3 linked regions of the Homo sapiens genome follow. The protein of the gene in region 3 interacts with the protein of the main gene of each other region in a pairwise test. Each region holds a gene or a part of one and is shown on either strand. Other genes may lie near its edges. The genes, in order: NINJ1, CNIH3 and CEACAM3.

What was found.
Region 1: the proteins of CEACAM3 (region 3) and NINJ1 interact in binary tests that used the Homo sapiens proteins (3 or more experiments, as listed by UniProt).
Region 2: the proteins of CEACAM3 (region 3) and CNIH3 interact in binary tests that used the Homo sapiens proteins (3 or more experiments, as listed by UniProt).

What each region holds. Positions count from the first base shown.
Region 1 is NC_000009.12:93,131,185-93,139,063, forward strand, and holds the start of NINJ1 (ninjurin-1), read right to left. Parts: upstream 3,068-7,879; 5' UTR 3,034-3,067; coding exon 2,959-3,033; intron 2,410-2,958; exon of another isoform or gene 1,828-2,409; intron 358-1,827; exon of another isoform or gene 301-357; intron 1-300.
Region 2 is NC_000001.11:224,619,261-224,626,365, reverse strand, and holds part of CNIH3 (protein cornichon homolog 3), read right to left. Parts: intron 1-7,105. UniProt on the Homo sapiens protein: Regulates the trafficking and gating properties of AMPA-selective glutamate receptors (AMPARs).
Region 3 is NC_000019.10:41,792,395-41,799,594, reverse strand, and holds the start of CEACAM3 (cell adhesion molecule CEACAM3 isoform 1 precursor), read right to left. Parts: upstream 3,009-7,200; 5' UTR 2,918-3,008; coding exon 2,854-2,917; intron 2,007-2,853; coding exon 1,647-2,006; intron 1-1,646.

The sequences.
Region 1 (7,879 bases), on a different chromosome or scaffold from region 3:
AGAGGGTCTCCCAGCTCCATGTCTGTGTTCCTGGCAGGAAACCCCAGCAAGACAGCAGGAAGTGCTGGAAGGCGGGGTTCCCACCACAGCTGGGCCAGGCAGACCCACTTCCCGCGGACTCAGCACTGGCCACGAGTGGCCCTGAGACCATGTTAGGGTTGCCTTTTAGAACTTGGCCCAGACCCTGCCGGCCTCAGGATCTGCCAGGAAAGCGGAAATGAGGAAACGAGCAAACCTCCTCCTGGGCAGCTGAGGCCATGCACGGCCCAGACGGCAGGTATACAGGGCACAGCTACCTACCTCCAAGGACCATGCCTCTCGGCCCAGATGTGGCCCCAGGAACCTTCAACCTGCGGGCTGTGAGGGGCAGGAAGGTGTGGCTGGCACCAGATGGCCGTGTCCTAACCCCATCCCCACCACCTCCCTGCCTTGAGACACCCTGGGGATAACAGATTCAGGCCATTTTCACATTAACATTGTTGTTTACTATTCCTTCTGCTGACAGCCACAAGTGAGCTGACTCAATCCCTGGACACTGATGGGGGCCCTCACATGAAGGGCCACAGGGGCGCAGGGCACACGGGGTAGGGGAGACCTGAGAGCTTCCCACGGCCGTGGCCCAACAGAGCCCACCCAGGTTGGAGTTCCACGTGTGGCTCCTCCCTGAGCCTTGTCCACCCTGGGAGGTGAGCAGTTGTGCCCCATTTTACAGAAAAGGAAACTGAGACTCTCCATTTTACAGAAAAGGAAACTGAGGGAGCTGGGCAAAGCGCTGCCCTCTCCAAACCACTGCCAGGGGTCACCAGTGGGAGAGGGTCTCCGTGGCAGGCAGAAGGATGAGGGCGCTGAGTGCTGGCCTGGCTCTAAGCACTTCATATACATCAGCTACTGAGTCCTCACCACTCTCTATGGCAGGCACCGCGACCACACCCATTTCACAGATGAGAAACTGAGGCACAGAGTGCTGACATGATGTGCCCAAGAAACGGAGAAGCAAGGTCTTGAGGTTGGGAAGAGGAACAGGTGTGTTGGGTGGTCCTGGGCCCCCAGGCTGGGTGAGCAGAGCGGCCCTCGAAGTTTTCTACCCCTCAAGGGGAAATGTGCTCATCCTCACACTGGCTCATAGCCTTTCCACAGCTCCCTGGACACCAGACCGTGATCAGGCCTGCAAGGCCCCTCCCATCGGCCTGGCTTCCCATCCCCCCACCTCCTACCTGGCCCTCATGTGCTCTGTGGTCCAGCCTCTGAGCCTTTGCTCCCACTGTTCCCTCTGCCTAGATGCCCTTCCACACATCTCAGAGAGCCAGATCTGCTCACCCACCTTCCCTGCCCTCCAGGGCTCAGAGCCAATGTCCCCACCTCCACAGAAAGCCTTCCCTGACCACCATGCCCCGCCCCCCACGATGGGCTCCCAGCCCCCAGGGAACCCCCTGCTTTGCCCTGGCCTCTCCTGCCCTGTCTGGGCTGGGCTGCTCTCCAACCGCGGCTTGGTGGGGCGGGGCTGTGTCTCTCTCCCTCTGGTGCCCAGAGCCAAGACAGTGATCCGGGAACAAATCCAACCCAATCTCCTCTGGGCTTGAGATGCACCCATCTCAGGAGGCACAGCCTATCCTGCCGCCCGCAGAAGTGAGCAGAGACTGCTCTGAGTGGAGGGCATTGCCCGGGCAAGGTCAGGGTTGGGGGAGGAGCAGTATCCCTTCCTTTCCAAGGCGCTTCCAAGCCACTGACCTGTTTATTACCTGACTTGCTTTCCCCACTTCCCTGAAGGCAGGAGAGACCCTTTGTTCTCTCTTTATAAGACCATGTCTAAAAGGCCCAGCGAGGTGTGGCAACTTCCCAAGGACACACAGCCGGAGGAGCCCCCTGCCTATTGCTCCAAAGTGCTCACACACTGGGGCAGGGCCAGGTCGCTGGGGTCCCGCACACCGGTCAAGTCCTGCAGTGCGACAGCTCCTCTCTAACCTAGGAACAAGTGTCCATGCAGCCCCAGGGCCATCCTATCCCGTGGCTCATGGGGCCCCGCCTCCCCGAACATGTCCTGTCCCCACAGCACCGGCCTAGGACTGTTCACCAGCGAGTGGGCAGAGTGTCTTTGCCCCAGTCTGGTCCACGCCATGGAGAGGCCTGGAAAAACCCAACAGGCTGCTGTTCCCTGCCCCCATCCCTGAGGGGGTTAGAAAAGGAAAGAATGTTCAAAGTAAACAAGTCACCAGAGGGCCATGCCAGGACCTTGCAACAAACACAAGGTGCTCAGTAAGTGCTGAGTCCTGGGATGAAGAATTCTGAAGCGGGACCACTACCAGGGCCTGCCCCCTGCCCACAGCCCTCCCAGGCCGGGCAGGGCAAGTTCTGGAGGGCCGGTGGCGGCATACACTGAAGGCTGTGTGACGTTTCTATTTCTCAAGGCAGGTGAGTGGAATAGGGACCACAGCGGGCCCCAAGTTCCCCCATCAAGGCACGCATCAGATTGTGTGGTCAGCGTGGGGTGACGTAACTGTCTGCATGCAGCTGGTCTGGAGCCCGGAGGCTGTGACTCCCCTCCGCCCGCCTCCGGGCAAAGTGCGCGGAGGAGCCGGCACGGCGAGGCTGAAGTTAGAGAGGCCCGCGCGAGAGTGGGGGGGAGGTCGGGAAAGCCGGGCGCCGGCAGTCCTTAGCCCGAGGAGCTGCGCCGAGGCCCCCTCCGCCGTGCAGCCAAGCGCGGGCGCTGCTTAGTGGGGCTGGGGACGCCAGCCCGCCCTGCGCCCCCACGCCCCCTCGTCCCGCCCACTTGCCGGGGGTGGCTGGAGCTCCCGGGGGCATCGTTCTGACCCTGATGGGGCGGGAAGGACTTGGCCTAGAGCGGGACGTCCCCCAACACTCTGCAGTGCGGACGCGGCGCACACAGGTGCCCGGGGAGCCGCGGCGCCCCGAAAGGACAGGGCCTGGCAAGATCATGCAGCGGTGGGGGGAAGGTCTTACCGAGGCGTCCGGGGAGCCGGGTGTGCCCGGAGGCAGGCCGCCGTTGAGCTCGTACTCCTCGGTTCCCGAGTCCATGGTGCGGCCGCCCAGGCCGCCAGGATCCGGGCCTGAGCGCGCCCGAGCCTCAGCCGCAGGCTCCAGCTGCGCGCCCGCCCCCGGCCCGCCCCCGGCCCGCCCGGCGGCGAGCTGCTGCCCCAGACTCCGCCTCCACCCGGGGCGGGCCCGGGGCCTGGAGGCTGTACGCTGAGAGCGCGCAGTTTGGGGCGACCCCAACCCCTCGGGCCTGAGACGGTCCCGCGGGGCCCCACAAGGGAGGGGGCGCGACGCCGATGGCCCCAGAGGACCCTGCGCTGCGTCTTGCTCTGAACCTCCGTCGCGGACACTTTTAATCCACAAAATGAGGCCAAGAACGACCTTTCCCTGGCCACCAGGCAAACTGCATGAAAGCGAGCGGGCGTTGCCGCTGGCGCCCACGCTGGGTTTTTCCCAGGCGGGGTTCGCCCTGGGAACCGCAGATCGCTCCAGCACAGCGCCTGCTGCGCCCCTAGTAACAGCGTCAGAGAGTCCGGGGTTCCCCTGATTGCGGGCCACGCTGACACAGGGCTTCCCACTCCCTGACCTTAGGTTTTCCTGCCTGGGAAATGGGGGTTATGAGGGCACAGACTGCTGGAGGGGCTGGGGGAGGCACAAAGGGGATGAACGTGCGCTGACTCATGGGCCCATCTGTGCCACCTGTGGCAGGGGGTGGGCTGGGGGCAGCACAGTGCCCAGAGCCCTGGCCAGATGCTAGGCGGGCCCCCACCTGTTGTATGATTGAAGTGGTTGTTTGGTCTCTGTTTCTCCATATGTTCATTCCTCAGCACTTTGCCCATCTGGGGGCCTGGGGGTCGAGAGCATGTGGCGGCCACCCTGGGAGGCCAGGGGAGTTCATCCTGACCACAGCATAGTCAGCTTGCGGCAGTATGGCCACTCTATTTCCAGAAGGGCAGTGGAAGGAAGGCCAGCTCAGACCCCAGGCTCTGTCCAGTCAGGCTGCCACCGGGACAGGAGGTAGGAGTGAGTGGGCATGGGCAGGGCAGCAGGATTGCGCTTGCCCTGATCCTCCAAACGGGGTCATCCCATGAAGGAGGAGCTGTCGTGGGCCCACTTCACAGCAGAGAAACTGAGGCTCAGGCTGTCACTGCCCCAGCTCTGCCTCAGAGGGGATCTGCAGGACAGGGTCTGGCACGGTGGCCCACGACGGGGATGGTTGCTGTTGTCCTCGCATAATCAGGGCACTGTTGGCACACCTGAGTGTTCACCAGCAGCTGGAAATCCAGCACCATTCACACAAAAAACTCTCTCACAGTATGGGACAAATCCCTATTCTGGGGGATAGTGCCTGCCCACGAGGGCTCAATTCCTGGAGGGGCAGGAGGTGTGGGACCACAGAGAAAATACGTCACACCCAGAAAGGGCCCTGGGAGCTGCAGGGGAGCCCTGAGACCTTGGAAGGCCAAGGGCGTGTAGAGAGGCCCCGAAGTAGGAGGGCTTGGCAGGTGGAGACCCCGTCCTGAGAGTATTCTTTCCTTTGTGCCATGTGGGAGCTCCTGCAGTGTGGTTCATCATTCCCATCCTTTTTTTTTTTTTTTTTTGAGATGGAGTCTTGCTCTGTCGCCCATGCTAGAGTGTAGTGGTGCGATCTTGGCTCACTGCAAGCTCCACCTCCCGGGTTCACACCGTTCTCCTGCCTCAGCCTCCTGAGTAGCTGGGACTACAGGTGTGCGCCACCACGCCCGGCTAATTTTTGTATTTTTGGTAGAGACAGAATTTCACCATGTTGGCCAGATCACCTCCTGACCTCAGGTGATCTGCCCGCCTCAGCCTCCTAAAGTGCTAGGATTACAGGCATGAGCCACTGCGCCTGGCCCCATTCCCACCTTCTAAGAGGAAGCCGGGAGGGTCGCAGCACCAGTGACAGTTGGGACATCAGCCTCGGGGTTTGTAAACCTGCTCTGTGCTGGCCGTCTGAGACCCTCTCCCAGCCTCAGTTTCCTCAGCTCCTGGGGCTGCTGGCAGGACGTGTGGGTGTCAGGGCTCAGGCAGGCTGCAGCGCTGGAGTTCCCTCGTCTGCTCCGTCATCCTCATTTGAGTATGTAGTGTCTGTTTTCCCCACTGTGCTCAATGCTGTTTACCCAACTGTTCTCTGCTGGATCCAACCCAGGACAAGTCTTAAAGGCACAGTGTACCCCGTGTCACCTCCATCTACCTTTTTTTTTTCTTTTTTTTGAGATGGAGTCTCGTTCTATTGCTCAGGCTGGAGTGCAGTGGCGCGATTTTGGCTCACTGCAAGCTCCGCCTCCCAGGTTCAAGCGATTCTCCTGCCTCAGGCTCTCGAGTAGCTGGGACTACAGGCGCCCGCCACCACGCCTGGCTAATTTTTTGTATTTTTAGTAGAGACGGGGTTTCACCATGTTAGCCAGGATGGTCTCGATCTCCTGACCTTGTGATCTGCCTACCTCAGCCTCCCAAAGTGAAAGGATTACAGGCGTGAGCCACTGCACCGGGCCCAACCACCTACTTTCAAGTTCTCCTGGAGACCATGAGTGCATGAGCTGTCCAAGACCAGTTTCTAGACGCTGACCCTGAGCTGAGGGACATGTCCCCAGGAGAGACACAGAGGAGGGGTGTGGCTGGGAGGAACGGGCTGGCAGATGCCCCAGCAGAGCAGCCCTATGTGTGGGTGGGTGTGCACACACAAACACTGTATATGTACGAGGGCCCCAGGCCTCTGTGGAGGAGCCCACAGGGTATCTCAGGATGCCTCTCTGGTGCCCAGGGAGGCTTGGTGCATCCCTCTCCCCCATCAAAGACTCTAGTGGATTCTTCTGGGGCTGGCGTTGTGTTGAGTTCAGATCTGCCCCTTCTGGCTTGGGATGTGCTTCCTCATATGTAAAGTGGGTATAAGGCAAGATGGCATGTGAGGACCATGGAGGTGTCACCCCAGCGTGCTCCTCACAGTGCCACCTCAAGCAGGTGGCTCCATCCCGCTGACCAAGAATGAGACCCCAGTGGGGCAGAGAACAGGCACACCGGAGGCTTGGACCTTCTACTCACCCACTGTCCTAGGAGCTGGGACTAAGCACGGTCTAAGCGACCCCCACCGCGTACTATGGGGAGTACAGTTGTGTCTCTCAGACCTGGGGGAACATGCGGTGAAAGCACCAAGCTGTTGAAAGGTCCATGGGTCAGATGGACCATGTTTTCACCTACAGAAAGCCTTCAGAAGCAGCCAGTCCCTGGCCTCCTCCACCTCGGAGAGGCTTGCAGGCAGGTATGCCGTTTCCACATCACCAAGGGAGAAAGCGAGTCTGGCAAGGTGGCGCAGCATGCCCGAGGTGACCCAGCTCTGCATGCCCACCTGCCCGCCTGCACATGCTCTTGCTAACATGAGCGGGAGGAGGACGGGGCTGGCAGTCGGCCCAGGGCAATGGCAACTCCCTGGAAGCCTGTGGTATTGCCAGCACCAGGCGTGGCCCATCCATTCCCCACCCACCTGAAGGAGCTGTTACCTGGCATCAGGGTGGGCCCAGGAGTCTGCATTTCTATCAGGCGGTCCCCAGGGACCACAGCTCTCACTGGGTCAGTGTACAGAGCAGGGAGGTAAGGGAGGCGGGTGTGTAGCGTGGCCACCCCATTTCCAGAAGGACAGAGGAAGGAAGCCCAGGCCTGTGAGGAGGTGCCATGCCATCATCCCCACACTAAAGATGGGATGGCAGAGGCTCAGAGAGCCGAGGGACTTGCCAAGGTCACCAGGCAGGGCTCAGTGGGAGGGGAGGCACAGCCAGGTCAAGGATGATAAGGGGCGAGGTGATGGGAGATGAGCACCACGCAGGTATGAGAGCCTCTCATGCTGTCCACCACAGAGAAGCAATGTGTCCAGGCTGCACAGCGAGGCACAGCTGGCCCTAGAAGGCCACAGAACAACAGAAACAAAGTGGACGTCCACCACAAGGGAGTGGCTAAGTGGATTATGGCCATCTGCATTCGGGAGTGGGATGCCATCGTCTACAGAGCAAGCGAGGCCAGGCCAGCGGATGTGGAGGGGTCCAGCTGCACTGCGGGCAGAGAACAGGCAGGAGCAGGAGGCTGGCCCCTGCTTCCTCTGCTGCACCCTGACACACTGCTCTGTTCCTTCCTGTTTGTGCATCCGTCTCTCCCACTGGGGCTCCCAGGGGCCAGGCTGGGGCTGATGCCACTTTGCATTTATGGACATCTGTGCCTAGCAAAGCTCTTGTCCCCAGCTGCCACAGCAAAGTGGCAGAGAGAGTAGTCATCCCCCACTATCTGTTCTCTTCTTCCTGCTCAGTCACAGGCTGCTGACTTTGAGCTGCACCAGTGGCTTCCCAGAATCAGAGCTGCATTTCTCTCTCCCCTGCAGCTAGAGGTACCCTTATGGCTACATTCTGGCAATGAAAATGTTGTGTGCAACATCAGGGAAGGAACCCTAAACAGAAGGGGTGTGCCATTCTTTATTACTTCCTCTATCTTGCTGGCTGGAAAGTGGATGTAATGGCTGGAGCTCCAACAGCCGTATTGGACCGTGAGGAGACCTTGGCCATGGGAGCCTCAAATAGTGGAGCTGAAGACAGAAGCAACCTGCATCCACAATGCCTGCAGCACAGGCCTCCCTGGGCTGCCCACCTCCAGACTTCTTAGGTGTGAGTAAGGAAAAACAAACAAACAAACAAAAAAACAACTATCCTGTTCAGAGGCTGCTATAATTTAGTTTTTTACTTTTTTTTTTTTTTTTGAGACAGAGTCTCACTCTGTCGCCCAGGCTGGAGTGCAGTGGCGTGATCTCGGCTCACTGCAAGCTCCGCCTCCTGGGTTCACGCCATTCTCCTGCCTCAGCCTCCCAAGTAGCTGGGACTACAGGTGC
Region 2 (7,105 bases), on a different chromosome or scaffold from region 3:
TCTAGCTGTGCATTTAGAGTTTTCAGTGACCAGTTTGTGGGAGTTAAGCAGATTCCAAGTGTCATTAAGAAATGCAGGCAACCCTCAGCTAACCCTGTTAAGATGCAGACACTCTGGCTATGAATGATCCCAAACAGCAACCACTTCCAACCCTGCAGATCTGAGTTGGTTACTCATGCAAATGACCTCACTATTTGTAGCAGAGCTCACTTAATGCTTCTTCTCTAGATTAAAACAGTTCAGCTTATTTTTCTAAAGACCCTCCAGGTCCTAGAAGAAGAAGCAACTCAGAAGCAATGTGAATGGCAAGGATTTCAGCCTGGAATTTAATATCTGCCTTATCTAACCCACAAGGGGACTATCTACACCTAGTTGTCAAAGGATGGAAGAAAGGTGTATTTCACAATCTATGATTAAAAAAAAAATGGGTATTACAAGATAGCAGTGGGATCGCTATCTTGAAGCACAAAATCAACATACGTGATGTTGGAGAGACTAGCGTGCAGCCCCCTGCATCAGCCTCGACATCATCCTCTGCTTTTGGGCATAGACATGGGTTGCTGGGCTACAGTCACCATCTGACAGCCCTTTCCTGTCACAGCTCGTCTTCTTTGGTGTCTGTTGTTCACAACCTCTCCCCAGCAGTGCCCTCCTCCACACCTTCAACCACCCTGATCTATCCCATCCACCATCTCCCCTCCACTTAATTCTGGATTGAAGCTCAGTTAGCCTCCCTTACACAGAGAGAGCTACCAAGTCTAGGATTCCATGGGCCTTCAGCAGAGCCCAAAAATGTGCTTTTTTTCTTTTGAGACGGAGTCTCGCTCTGTCGCCCAGGCTGGAGTGCAGTGGCGCCATCTCAGCTCACTGCCAGCTCTGTCTCCTGGGTTCACACCATTCCCCTGCCTCAGCATCCCGAGTAGCTGGGACTATAGGCGCCCACCACCACGCCTGGCTAATTTTTTTTTTATTTTATTTTTAGGAGAGATGGGGTTTCACCATGTTAGCCAGGATGATCTCCATCTCCTGACCTCATGATCCGCCCGCCTAGGCCTCCCAAAGTGCTGGGATTACAGGCGTGAGCCACCACGCCCGGACAAAAATGTGCATTTTTAGTAAGCATCCAGATGATTGTCATAACCAGGTAAGTCTGGGAAAGTATTCATTGAGGAGGAGTCTATCAAGCTTAAGCTGGCTGTAATAAATTATCCAGATCCTTATTTATTGGCAATCACTGAGTTCCCACCATACTGCCCCATGCTGGACACTGAGGCCACAAGTGAGGGCAACAGTTTCTGCCCTCCAGAAGCTTATAGTCCAAGCACAGAGACAAATACAACAGTGGGACTCAGACCTGGGGACAGGTTCAGAGGACAAGTGGACTCAGATCGCCAGGGAGAATGCGGCTTCCTAGAGGACAAAGGCTGCAGCAGAGCCAGTCGGGTGAAGAATGAAGTGGGGAACAGCATTCCAGGGAGACAGAACAGCCCATTTGGGAATTGCAAGAAGGTGAGGATATCTGGAACACAGAAAATGCAAAATGTGGCTAAACAGTTAACCGGGACCTGGTCCTCCCAGCCCTCTAAACTTTGAAAGCGAGAGAAACCAGAAAAAGCTTTAGTCTGGGAATAACATGGAAGGATCCTTTCAGGTATTAGATCACTCTTGGTAGCCATGAGTGGGGTGGTTTAGTCCAGGGGAGATGATAACCAAGGAGGCCAGCTTGGAAGGGACCACGATGCTCTGAGAAACAGCAAATGGGGGCCTGAACCAAGGCAGGGATGGGAAGCATGGAAGGGAGGGGACAGACATGGCTGGTGACTACAGAAGGAGCAGATGGGGTAGAGAGGGTCTCTGGGTGAAGACTAAACCCACTGGGGCTGTGAGGAGTGAGGAGGGCATGAAGACAAGCTCGGCTGGGATCCAACTGTGGGGCATGGGGCAGGTGGCCCCATGGACACACAGGTCAGTGTCGGGGGACAGGTCTGGGAGGCCAGGAAACTACCAACATGGAGAGGAAGGTACAGAAAGAAGAACCCACAGGGGAGATGGAGGAGAAACAGGGCCCCAGAAAAACAACATTTGAAAGCAGTTGCAAAGAAGACACGGACAGCAGTCTCAAAGCCACGGAGAGGCCAAGATAAGCACTAAATGGTGCCCAGAGATTGCCACAGACCACTGATGTCCTCATCAAGTGCTGAGCTGAGAAGGGGCGGGGGCACAAGTCAGGTGGCCAGAAAGGAAACAAGTGTCTTTGGAAAAGAGATAAGATACACAAATAGCAAAATGCTGACACTTGCCAATTCTGAGTGGTGGATGCAGAGGGCTTTGTTTTATTAGTCTCCGTGGTTTCTGAGTGTCTGATGTCAGAATCCAAAGAGGTGACGGCAGGCAGGATGTGGTGAGACAAAACCACTCTGCAAGGGAAGAGAGGTTGAGCAGCATTTAGAGGGCCTGGGGACCAAAGGCTTGTCTGCAGCTCAGAGGCACCACAGCCTTTGAATCTGCCAGGGGGTGGGGACGGGTGGACCTGCGAAGGGCAGTGGCTGAAGACACAGACAGGTGGGGAAAAGTGATGGAGCAATGTCCACAGATAACTAGGAGGGGAGGAAGTGGCCTCAGATGAGGGACAGACTCTGCTGCTTCTGAGTCTGAGAAGGAAAAATAAATCATTAATCAGAATTCTGGGGAGGGGCAGGATCCTGAGGCATCCCTGTCTGATCATCTCTATCTTCTCCAGGAGCTGGAATTAAAGTCATCTGCTCAGAGGCAGTCAGGGGTGGGGGACAGTTTTGGGAGCTTCAGGGGGCTCTGAGAAAATGACAACAATCTACAACAGTGTTGTGGAAGCTGAAGGAACTGACTCACATCCAGCTGATGAGTTAGAAGGCAATACTGAGGCCAGCTAAGGTCAAACCGTGCATCCGCCTGGGACCCAGCAGCTCCCGGGTACCTGGGGTGAGAGAAGAGAGGGAAGAGAGTAGACTCCTGGGAGACTGAGGCATCCACTACAGGAGCGACAGGAAACAGAGGACGCAGCAGTGGAGAGCAGCAGCAGGAGCTAAGTGGTGGATGATGAGGGGTAATGACACAGAGGAGGAAGTAAATCCTAGAGGAGCGATGCATTGAGAGAAGAAGGAAAAGCCACAGTCAAAGGAGGGCCAAGAGCCCCTGGGGCAGCAGAGTGCGGGAGTAGAGAACAGGGAGCTCACTGCAGAGGCAGGTCCAGGGCAGGTCAGGGGGCTCAGGGACCACAAAGATGGAAGTGGTCACTAGAGGGGAGGTCAGATAACCAACAGCACCCAGCACCTTGCAGGACAGCAAGGACAGGACAGTGACCAGGAGCCAAGTCCTCAGTGGTGCCCAGTGGAGGGGCCCATAGGAGTGAGTCAGATGATGGTGGCAAAGGCACCATCCAGATAGCACAGCTACTGAAGAATAAGGCCCCAGAGGAACCTGTTTGCAGACTTACTGGGAGAGAGGTCCACAGCAGAAAACAAGTCCAGAGGGCAAAGCGCAGAGCCATGTGGATATACAGAAGGGAAAAGCACCAGGTAGCCAGAGGGGCTAGAGTGAGGCAAGGGCCTGGGCACAGCTTCAGGGCCAGTATAGGCAAGAGCTCCAATTGCCTGGCAAGAGCCTCACAACATTCACTGCCTTTAATGTTTGTTCAGTAACTCAAAAGTCAAAGACAAGTTACTTTAGTGTCTCTAACATCCAACCCCAGTGAGGCCTTGAAACCTCACCAAACAGTTGGGATTGGGGCTGGTTCCTGATTGTTTTAGGTGACCTGTGAATTCTGCACACTTCTCTCCTCTCCTCTCTAACATGACTGCAGTGGAAATACAATGATGACGTAAGCTTTCTTTTTCAGGGAGAGTTATTGCAATGCAAACAAGGATAAAGCGGCAAGCAACGCAAACAATGATAAGGTGCCATGCATCAATCCAGACATTACATTTTCCAGAAGGTGTTCTCTCCAGGGATAGCCAGTGCTTCTCCCCAATCTGCTCCTCTGAAAGAGAACCAGCTCCACTATCATCAAGAAGGGCCCTATACCCCATGGCAATGGCCAGTCTTCTTTGCAATAATTAGCTTCCAAAGTTTCAAAGTGCCAAGGCATGGGGGAAAATGCACATTGTCCAAACTACCCAGAAAGTAGTCCTTAAGAAGCAGCCAGAAGCCAAATCAGAAACGAGTTACTGTTAGTCTGTTCTCCCACTGCTAATAAAGACATACCTGAGACTGGGTAATTTACAAAGAAAAGAAGTTTAATGGACTCACAGTTCAGCATGGCTGTGAGGAGGCCTCATGATCATGGCAGAAGGTGAAGGAGGAGCAAAGGCATGTCTTACATGGCGGCAAGCAAGAGAGCATGTGCAGGAGAACTGCCCTTTATAAAACCATCAGATCTCATGAGACTTATTCACTATCATGAGAACAGCACAAAAAAAACCCCATCCCCCACGATTCAATTACCTCCCACCAGATCCTTCCCACAACACGTGGAGATTATGAGAGCTACAATTCAAGATGAGATTTGGGTGTGAACATAGCCAAAACATATCACTATGTCAACTGGAAATGCGTCAAGCCAGAAGGAAACAAGAATTTGTCCTATGAGTATTTATACCAAACACTCTCTATGTGTCAGGCACTGTTCTGGGCTCTGGAGAAACAATGGTAAAGTAGAAAACGTCCCTGCTCTCATGGAGCTTCCTTCCACTTCAGCTGTGGGGCAATGGACAGTGACGGAGGGAGGAGATAAAAGGGGGATGGAGCAGGCTGGAGCTGCGGACATCCCACCTGAAAGTGAGATGCCAGAACGGACAGGGGCATCACAAGTAGAACAGAAAGTGGAGACCAAGTAAGACCTGGCAGTGAGTGCAGTACCCTCATCTGAGTAGGCCAAGGCAGGGTCATAAAAAAACAGGCTATTTATTGTCAACCCCAAGCATCCTACCATTTCACATAAACCCATTTTTTGTTTCCAGGTGGGTACTGTGAGAAACTGAGATGTTTACTAGACTTCCAGAGGCTGAGCCTGTGACAAGGTGGAACTGGCAAAACACTCCACCATGAAGACATCTTCTCTAACAAAACTGCCTCTCGGCACATATGTATGTCATCCCTGTCCAGGGCCATTTAAACCCTCAAACAGCAAATGCTGCTGTGAATCCAAAGAAATTTCAAGGTGAGATGGTGCATCAGATCTTTCTAGGGAATTTTATTGGGAATTAATTTTATTTGTAAATTGTCAAAACTCATAGTGACTCCAAATATAAAAACTTCAAAAGCTAAAGACCTGAAATTCAGTACTGAATCTTTGATCTTTTCAAAGAATAGCTTCATCTGTGTTTATATAAATGAGACACACTGCAAACAGGCTTAACCGAGCCGGAGCAGAGAAGGCTCTTGTGAGTAAACACCATTCATTTTATACTGGCTGGAAATACATATCACTTCACATCAAAAACCCTTTAGAACGCTTTTTTTTCCTTCTAAACGTCCACATGCAATTTTTTTTTCTTAGAAATGGGGTCTCACTATGTTGCCTAGGCTGGTCTCAAACTCCTAGGCTCAAGTGATCCTCCTGCCTCAACCTCCCAAAGTGCTGGGATTACGAGCATGAGCCACTGAGCCCGGCCATATGCAATTTTTTAAAATACACAAGAGATAATCTTTTCTGGATAAGATTACTGATGATTTTATTTAATTACAAATCATTGTATTTTCAAAATTTTGGACAAGGAACCTGTATCATTTTATAAGCAGAAGTCTAATTTAAATAAATAGAATTTTCCTCTTTTAAAAAAGGATATATAGCATGTCTTGAGTCTGGTTGCTGTTGCTATTGTAACCCCAATCAGAAATTCCAACTCTAAAATTTCATTTATACAGAGAAAGGTAATCCTTTGGATATAAATTATTATCTAAGTTATGAATCCAAAAATAGTGACTACAGTTAGAGAAAGGGCTTAGGCTTAAGAGTCTCACAGACCTAGCTCAAGTCCATGCATACCAGCTCCAATACATATCAGCTGTGCAACCTTAGGCAACCTTGTAATCTCTCTGATCCAGTTTCCTCATCTGCGAAATGTCCGTTATGAGGACTAAAGGGCTGCCTGGGCAGTAAGAGGCCAGGTGCCTGAGGGTATGCAAAGCCACAGAAAAAACCTAGTTTTCTTCTGCTTCTTCCAAATGTGATAAATGTACTCAGAGATAGTAGCTGATATAAAATAAATGGGTAACTTGAAATATTTTCAACTGAAAACAAATGCAGATAAATTTTCAAAGTAAAAAACAAGACTTGAAAGAAAGGCTGGCCACATCCATCCTTGCTCCCAGACATCCAGTGGGAAAAAAGGGGAGGAAAACGATTGGACTGAGAGATCCTCTGTAAAGTACTTAAAACTTGTCCTACAGCAGACACCCAATACATAGTAGCTACCATCATTACCCCTAAGTAGGTACGTACAATTCAATAAGAAAAGCACGCCATCTTCATATCTTACAGCCTAGGCATGGCAGCATGGCAGGCATTTTAACCGCTATATGTTGTTAAGCGCCCAATTCATTTTTTGGGGTACTGATATATATCACACAATCAATATGCCTTGTCCGATCAAGAAGTACATAAGTAATATAAGAAGCTGGAAAGAAGGCAAACAGTCTAACATAAAACCAAGTCTCCTCAATTTTGGTTGAAATAATTACTACCATGTAACTAACACCCAGACATACAAACCGTGCCCTGAAATCAGGGTGTCTCTGGTTTCCCAGTTCAATGTTCAGGAACCAAATCAGTGTGATGGGGTTTGGGTTGTTTGATTTGGAGAGAGGGAAAGGGATAGAGAAGGAAAAGACTAGGAAAGGAGGGACTGAGACTATGAAATTATTACCGTAATTTGAAATCAAAACGCACAAATTCTTTTCATTATTAGAAACAAGAATCTTGCCACTTCCACGAGGAATCTGGATAAAACCTGAGTTGGAATTTGACTGCATTTCAGCCACCCCTCGATAAGGGGGTGAGCATTGAGAAGCTGGAGGATAGAGCCAGTGCTGGATGAGGGAACACCTGATTTTCATTCAAATGTCAACC
Region 3 (7,200 bases):
CGGACATTCCTGGCACTGACTCTGTTGACACAAGGGATTTAGTTCTAGGTTAGGCTAATGTGTTAGGCTATTTTTTGTTACTATAAGGAAATGTCTGAGGCTGGGTAATTTATAAAGAAAAGAGATTTAATTGATGCAGGGATCTGCAGGCTATACAGGCATGGCACCAGCGTCTGCTCGGCTTCTGGTGAGACCCAGCAAGCTTACAATCATGGTGGAAGGAGAAGGGGGAGCAGGTGGTGTCATGTGGCAAAAGCAGGAGCAAGAGAGAGTGTGGAGGCGCCACACACTTTTAAAGAACCAGATCTCCTGTGCACTCAAAGTGAGAACTGACTTGTCACCAAGGGGATGGTGCTGAGCCACTCATGAGAAACAGCCCCCCATGATCCAATCGCCTCCCACCAGGCCTCACCTCCAATGTTGGGGATCACATTTCAACATGAGATTTGGAGAGGATAAACATCCAAACTATATCAGGAAAAATTGATTAATTTTCCATTTGCCCCTTACTCTCCAGACCAAAATCTCCCCCTCTGAGATGTGGATGCCCAAGAAAAAGGAAAGAGAACTTAGGACTGGTCTCAGGCCTGCAGATGTCTAATAATAACGCCAGCCGTCCCCTGGTGGAGAAGAGGCAGCTGTGGCTGCAGAGAGACCTCGTGTGACTCTAATCTGACACCTTTGACTTGTGTGACCCTAGTCGGTGACTGTCTCCCTGTTCCTCAATTTTTTTTTTCAATAAGTAGGATAAGTGCTATTTGGCTGTGACGTTGTTTGTGAATTAATCTCAAAATATTTACAATTACTTGACCTCAGCTGTGTATAGAGGAGCTGCCCAAAGGAACAGCATCTATGCTTATTTGCCTCCAAAAGAGAGGTCCCTGAGTCTGATCCCTTGTGGAAAAGGAGCTGCTGGGAGCATCTTCTCTCTTCTTTTTCCTCCCCCTGGGGATACTGAACTTCCCATGGAGTCATCTAAGTTCCCCTGGGCAGTGGGCTCATGCCCTAGTAATCTTGTCCATCTGTTCACTCCATGCTGAGTCTCAGGTAAAGGATGAGGCCCTGTCCTTGCCCAGGAGAGGTTCTTGGGGCTGGACCCTGGCTGGTGACCAACTCCAGGAGCCACGACCCTCAGACAGCTGGTAAATTCTTGCTCCCAGTCAGCCCTGCCCAGGAGGCCTCACTCAGCCCTGGCACAGGATCCCTAGGGTCCCCAGGGTCACCTGGAGTCAGGAATCTGGGACAGGGATTTGCACAGGGGCTCAGTTCTGGGAAGAGTTGAGCTTCTCTCTGAGAATCCTAGGGGGACCCCTCAGGCCAGGCCCTGATCCAGTTCTCCAGGGTCTTTCTTAGGGTCAGGTCCATGGGGAGACCATGGGGTTCTTTTCTGACACTGACCTTGCCCTGCTGAGTCCCCCCATCAGACTGTCCTTCCTCTGCAGCGAGTGTCTGCAGGGTCTGGATGCAGGAAAGGAATTCTGATCTGTGGAAGTTTGTCTCCCCCGTGTGTGTCCTGCACTAAATGTCCAAACCCTGATACAGAATGTAATGCAGAGAGGGCCACAGGCACAGCCCAGGCCTGACAATCCCATATGTGGGAAGTAGAACTGACCCCCAACACCCAGAGGTCATGTGGAAATACTCACGGTATACATGGAACTGTCCAGTTGCTTCTTCATTCACAAGATCTGACTTTATGACTTGTAGGGTGTAGAATCCTATGTCATTCTGGGTGACATTCTGGATCAGCAGGGATGCATTGGTGTATATTGTCTCTCGACCGCTGTATGCGGCCCCTGGGGTAGCTTGTTGAGTTCCTATTACATATCCTACAATTAGACTGTTGCCATCCACTCTTTCCCCTTTGTACCAGCTGTAGCCAAAAAGATGCTGGGGCAGATTGTGGACAAGTAGAAGCACCTCCTTCCCCTCTGCGACACTGAGCGGCATGGATTCAATAGTGAGCTTGGCAGTGGTGGGCGGGTTCCAGAAGTTTAGAAGTGAGGCTAGGAGGGAGAAAGCATCAGTCAATATTGGGACCCATGTATTGGGATGGAAAGATGGGGCCCTGGGTCCTGAGAGAGTCTCTTCACCCTTCAGCCTTGGAGAGTGTATGTGTGTCCCACTTGGTCAAGGTCAGTAACGTGACCTTTCTTTCTTCAGCACCTCTAACCTTGGCATTTTCCTGTGTGGAATCCCCTTCCCCAGGGGTCTGCATGGCTCCCTCCCCACTGCCCTCAGATCCTGCTCACATCAGGGCATCCTTGGGAGATCCCTCCCCTGACACCTCCTCTAGAGACCCTGGGTCTTCCCTTTCTGACCTTTTTCTGCTCTGTTCCCTCCAGGGCTCTTGTCAACACCTGAACTCACATTCTAGATCTCTTTGGGTGTCTATCTTCATCTCTGCAAGAGTGTAAGCTCTTTGAACACAGAGACTTGTCTGATATTTGTTGTACGCCAGTGCCTAAAATTTGATTGCAAATACTGGTGGATGAGTTAAGGAGTGGTGGTTATTTTGCAACTTGTGGTTGGTGGTCAAAGACAGGTTTTAGTGCCCTGGTTATATTTTTATTTAAAGTATCACCCTGATGTAATTCTTATTCTTATCATTTTCTAATTGTAGTGGCCAGTAATGATTAACTTGGAAAACATGATCAATGGATTTTCCTCCCTCTTATCAATCCCAGTTCAATGTGATTGTCTTGTTGTGACCCGTGTCCCTCTCTGATGTTCTCTCCCCTGAGGCTTCAGCAGAAGCCTTCTGTCCCCTATCAGAGCCCCATCCTCCCCAGGAGACCCCAGCCATTCTCTGTGATCCCTCCTCTTGCCCACTCCCAGGAATCCTCCACTCACCTGTGAGCAGAAGCCCCTGCCAGGGGATGCATTCTCTGTGGGGAGAGGCTGAGGGGGGCCCCATGGTCTCTGCTGCCTGCTCTTTCCTCCTCTGTGGAAAAGAGCCTGGGCTCCAGGAATGCTGTAGTCAGGGCTACTGTGACTTAGGCTCTGCTGTCCTTCCTCTTTCCATGCTGAGCCTCCTCCCAGGGCAGGAGCACTTTCCAGGGTCATGGGTGAAGCTCTGCCCAGGTCACCTCTCTGTCCCCTCCCCTCTCAGTTTTGCCTCATTTTCTCTTCTTCCTTTCTCCCTTCTGTCTACATTTGAGTTCCCCAGACCAGGCTCTGAGAAGCAAGGCTTACTTGGATCCCTGTTTCATAACAGGATGACCCTCCCTCCCCAGCGTGGACCTCTGCTCTGCCTTGGCCTTGGGTCTGTCAGCACCATGCAGAGTCCCTGGGGTCCCTGAACCTGGTGTTATTTTCTCTGTGACGGAGAAACTCCTTTGTGTGTGCAGGGTCTTCTTACTGTTCTCACATGTCTGGGAAGGTTGGATTTACTCCCAGCAAGGAGGTCACAGAGATGTCTGGGGTCCTACAAATGGATATATCTAGGGCTAAAGCCCGGATCTAAGATTCTGAGCTGTTCTTTCTGCAGCATTATGTGACTCTAATTTCCTGGGAGTAACTGAGAATGAGGCTTCACAGTGCTGTAGCTTTATGTCATCCAGACACCAGACATTTCTAGGCTGACTTTATGATTTTCTCTCTAGCTTGTACCACCTTTATTATTATATATTTCATCCTTTTTTCTAAATAAATTTAGTTTACAAAACATCCTGTCCTAGCAGGGATCGGTGGCTCAGATCTGTGATCCCAGCTACTCGAGAGGCTATGGTGGGAGGATGGCTTGAGGCCAGGAGTTGGAGACAAAACATCCTTGTCTTATGCAATATTGTCCATGAAATTACAGATTTGATGTGTGCTTAAATGTTTTCTCAATGTATATTAAAATAAACGCATAAGTATTAAAGTTTTTAAAAAGCTTACTTACGTTTCGCCTAAAATCAGTTTTTGGAAATGCTGACACAGTGGCATAAACATGAACTTTATGTCCAGATGTACCTGGGGACAGCTAATGGTTCTGTCACTTAACTATGTTGACTTGGACAAGTCACGTGGCTTCTATGATCCTTGATTCCCTGATTTGTAAAAGGAGGATGGTAAAATCCTCCTTGCAGAGTTGTTGGGAATAAGTGAGCTGCTGTGGGAGCCCCGTGCCCAGGCGGGTGTTGAGTACATGGTGGTTGTCATCGTGGTTATTGCTGTGGAATTCTGGTTTTCAAAGAGTGTCTACGCCGGAATATTGGGCTTGTGGCTTTCTGCTGATGTGGATGTGTGAAAAAGCTACTTTTGCTTGTTAGAACTTGTGGTGCATCTGTCATTATTTTCATTTCCCAGTTCCACTACCTATTTTCTCTGTGATGTTGGTCAAGTTGCCTAACTTTTCTGTGCCTCATTTACCTAATTTGTGAAATGTGGGTAACAGTACACTAGTGTGGGTGTGTTATTTCCCAGCTCTGACCACTAGAGGGCATAGAAGCACCGGCACCTACTAGCAATGGGCATATGGGCGCCCATGGTCTGTAAACATCATTCTCCCATGAAAGGAACCAGGGTTCCCTGGAGAAATGGCTGATTCCAGGGCTGGGGCAGGAAACCACAAGAGGAGACTGGAGCATCTTGCGGGGCCTGAGAGTAAGGCACAACTTGAAAAATGATGGGGATGTGTGGAAAGTATCACAAATGCCAACTAGAAGAAGCTCCCAATGGCCAATTTGGGGACAATATAGCAACATAATCAATAATAATAGTAATGTAGTCCAACCGATAAATACTTGAGAGTCCATGCTGATATATATATAAATAAGTGAATACATAAATAAATGAGAAAGAAGAACTAGCTCTTTCTTACAGCAGCGTTCCAGTTAATCAGTGTAGAAGCAATGATGGAAGCAGAAAATCACTGGCTAACACCACAGTAAGAATTGTTTATCGGCTACAATTATCTCTGGATTCTAGAAATTAATTGGTAAAAGTATGCTAAGAACAAACTGGCTATTTGCATATTTCCAAAGTACCTGTCCACAAGATACTTATTAATTACAATGAGATGAATAGTAACTTCACAGTAGAGAAACCTGGCAGACACCACCTGAACCAAGCGCTTAAAGTGAACCTCATCGGTAATGAGAGATATAGACATCCTGGGGCTCCGGCTGGGATGTCCTGAGAAAGACACATCGCTTCTGTGCTAATCTTGCCCAAAATGCATAACCTGAAACATCCCAAGGAAACATGAGACAAACCCAAATTGAGGGGCATTCTACAAAACAACTGACCAGACCTCCTCAAAAGCATCAAGGTCCTGAGAGAGGGAAAGAGTGGGAAACTCCCCCAGGTTGGAGGAGGCCTAGGAAATGTGACAGTGTTATTCAGTGTGGGATCCTGGGTTGGACTCTGGAGCAGAAAAAAGACATGACTGGGATGATTAGCAAAATTTTAATATTTCTTTTTTTTTTTTTTGGAGACAGAGTCTCACTCTGTCGCCAAGGCTGGAGTGCAGTGGCTCGATCTGGGCTCACTGCAACCCCCACCTCCTGAGTTCAAGAGATTCTCCTGCTTCAGCCTCCCGAGTAGCTGGGATTACAGGTACCTGCCACCACGCCTGGCTAATTTTTGTATTTTTAGTAGAGACGGGGTTTCATCGTGTTAGCCAGGATGGTCTCGATCTCCTCACCTCGTGATCTACCCTCCTTGGCCTCCCAAAGTACTGGGATTAAAGGCGTGAGCCACCGTGCCCGGCCCCATATTTCTATATTTTAAAATTTTTTGTATCAATGCTAGGTGACTGATTTTGATAATTGCTTTAGAGTTAAGGTTATTTGAAAAAGCTGGATGAAGGATATACTGGAACTCTGACTATTTTTACAATATTTTTGAAAGTCTGAAAAATGAAAAGTAAAAAAATGTAAAATGCATAAGATTTCTGTGAGGATAAAATGAGATAAATGTGAAGTGCTTAGAACAATGCCTGAGACACAGGAGTTCTTAAAACATGTCAGCTATTATTATAAGTAATTTTATGATTAACAAGTAATATTATAAGTAATGAGTCATCTATTATAAATCATATAAAATATGATTTCTTTCATAATATCCTCATATATTCTCATCCATTTCTTTTTTCCCTCTCCCCTGTGAAAAGCATATTGAGCATGTATGTCATGAAAAGATAAAATAAGATTCGATTTTATTTTGAGAATTATTTTGGGGGATGAGGAGGAGTGTCATTTCCTCCAGCTACGAAGTAGCTCAGACTCAGGCCCACATTGCAAAGTTTGCTTGGCTGGGAAACAAAGCTGGAGCCTGGCGGCCACCCACCGACGTGGTTTATGATGGCGCCTCCTGGCGGCGCAGAGAACTTTCCGCAGTTCCTCACCCTCGTGCTTTAGGAGCGACTTAGAAATTCTACACAGTCCATTTATTAAACCCTTTCTAGGTCACGCTGCGGATCATTTAATCTTCACAACAAGATTGTGAGAAGGGATATTTATTCATCTTAAGACGATAAAACAGGGTAAAAAAAAGTGAAGCGACTTGTCAGGGTTGCAAAGGGAGTGACAGAGCTAGGATTTGGATCTAGGTCCCCCTGACTTCCAGGCTGAGTGTAAATGTTCAGGTGAGTCTGAATGTGTGGCCAGGTGGAGAACTATTGGTATAGAGTAGTGGTTGTGGACTGAGGGTGGTTTCCGCCCAGGGGACATTTGGCAATGTTTGGAGACATTTTTGGTTTTCATACCGGGGTGGGGACGGGAGAGAGGGAAGGCTGCTATTGGCATCTAGTGGAAAGAGGCCACGTGGATGCTGCTGAGCGTCTCACAATGCACAGAACAGCCCCCACCGCAAGGAACTGTTCATCCCCAATGTCAATAGAACTGCTATGAAGCCCTTGTCTGACTTAAAAACCTGAGGATGCATTCTTGTGGTGAGCTAATGTTTGCCAAGTGCTGAGCTGGATAGCGTGAGGGATATGGAAACAGTGCACCAGTCTGTGCGGCCAAGGAGTTTGAAATTTAGAAGGGCAGGGGGTGGAGGCAGGAGAGGCATATGAAGGCCTTCAATATAAGGCAGCAGATGATAAGTGCAACAAGACAGTGTCCAGTAGGGCTAAGCAGGCTCTCAGGAGGCAGAGCACTCATCTACGTGTGGGAAGAACTGAGCACTTGTCTGGCCTGTGGAAATGTGGTTTTGAGCTGGGCATGTGAGCAAAGTTGAGCTGATGGGAAAACACAAGCCCCGTTCAGG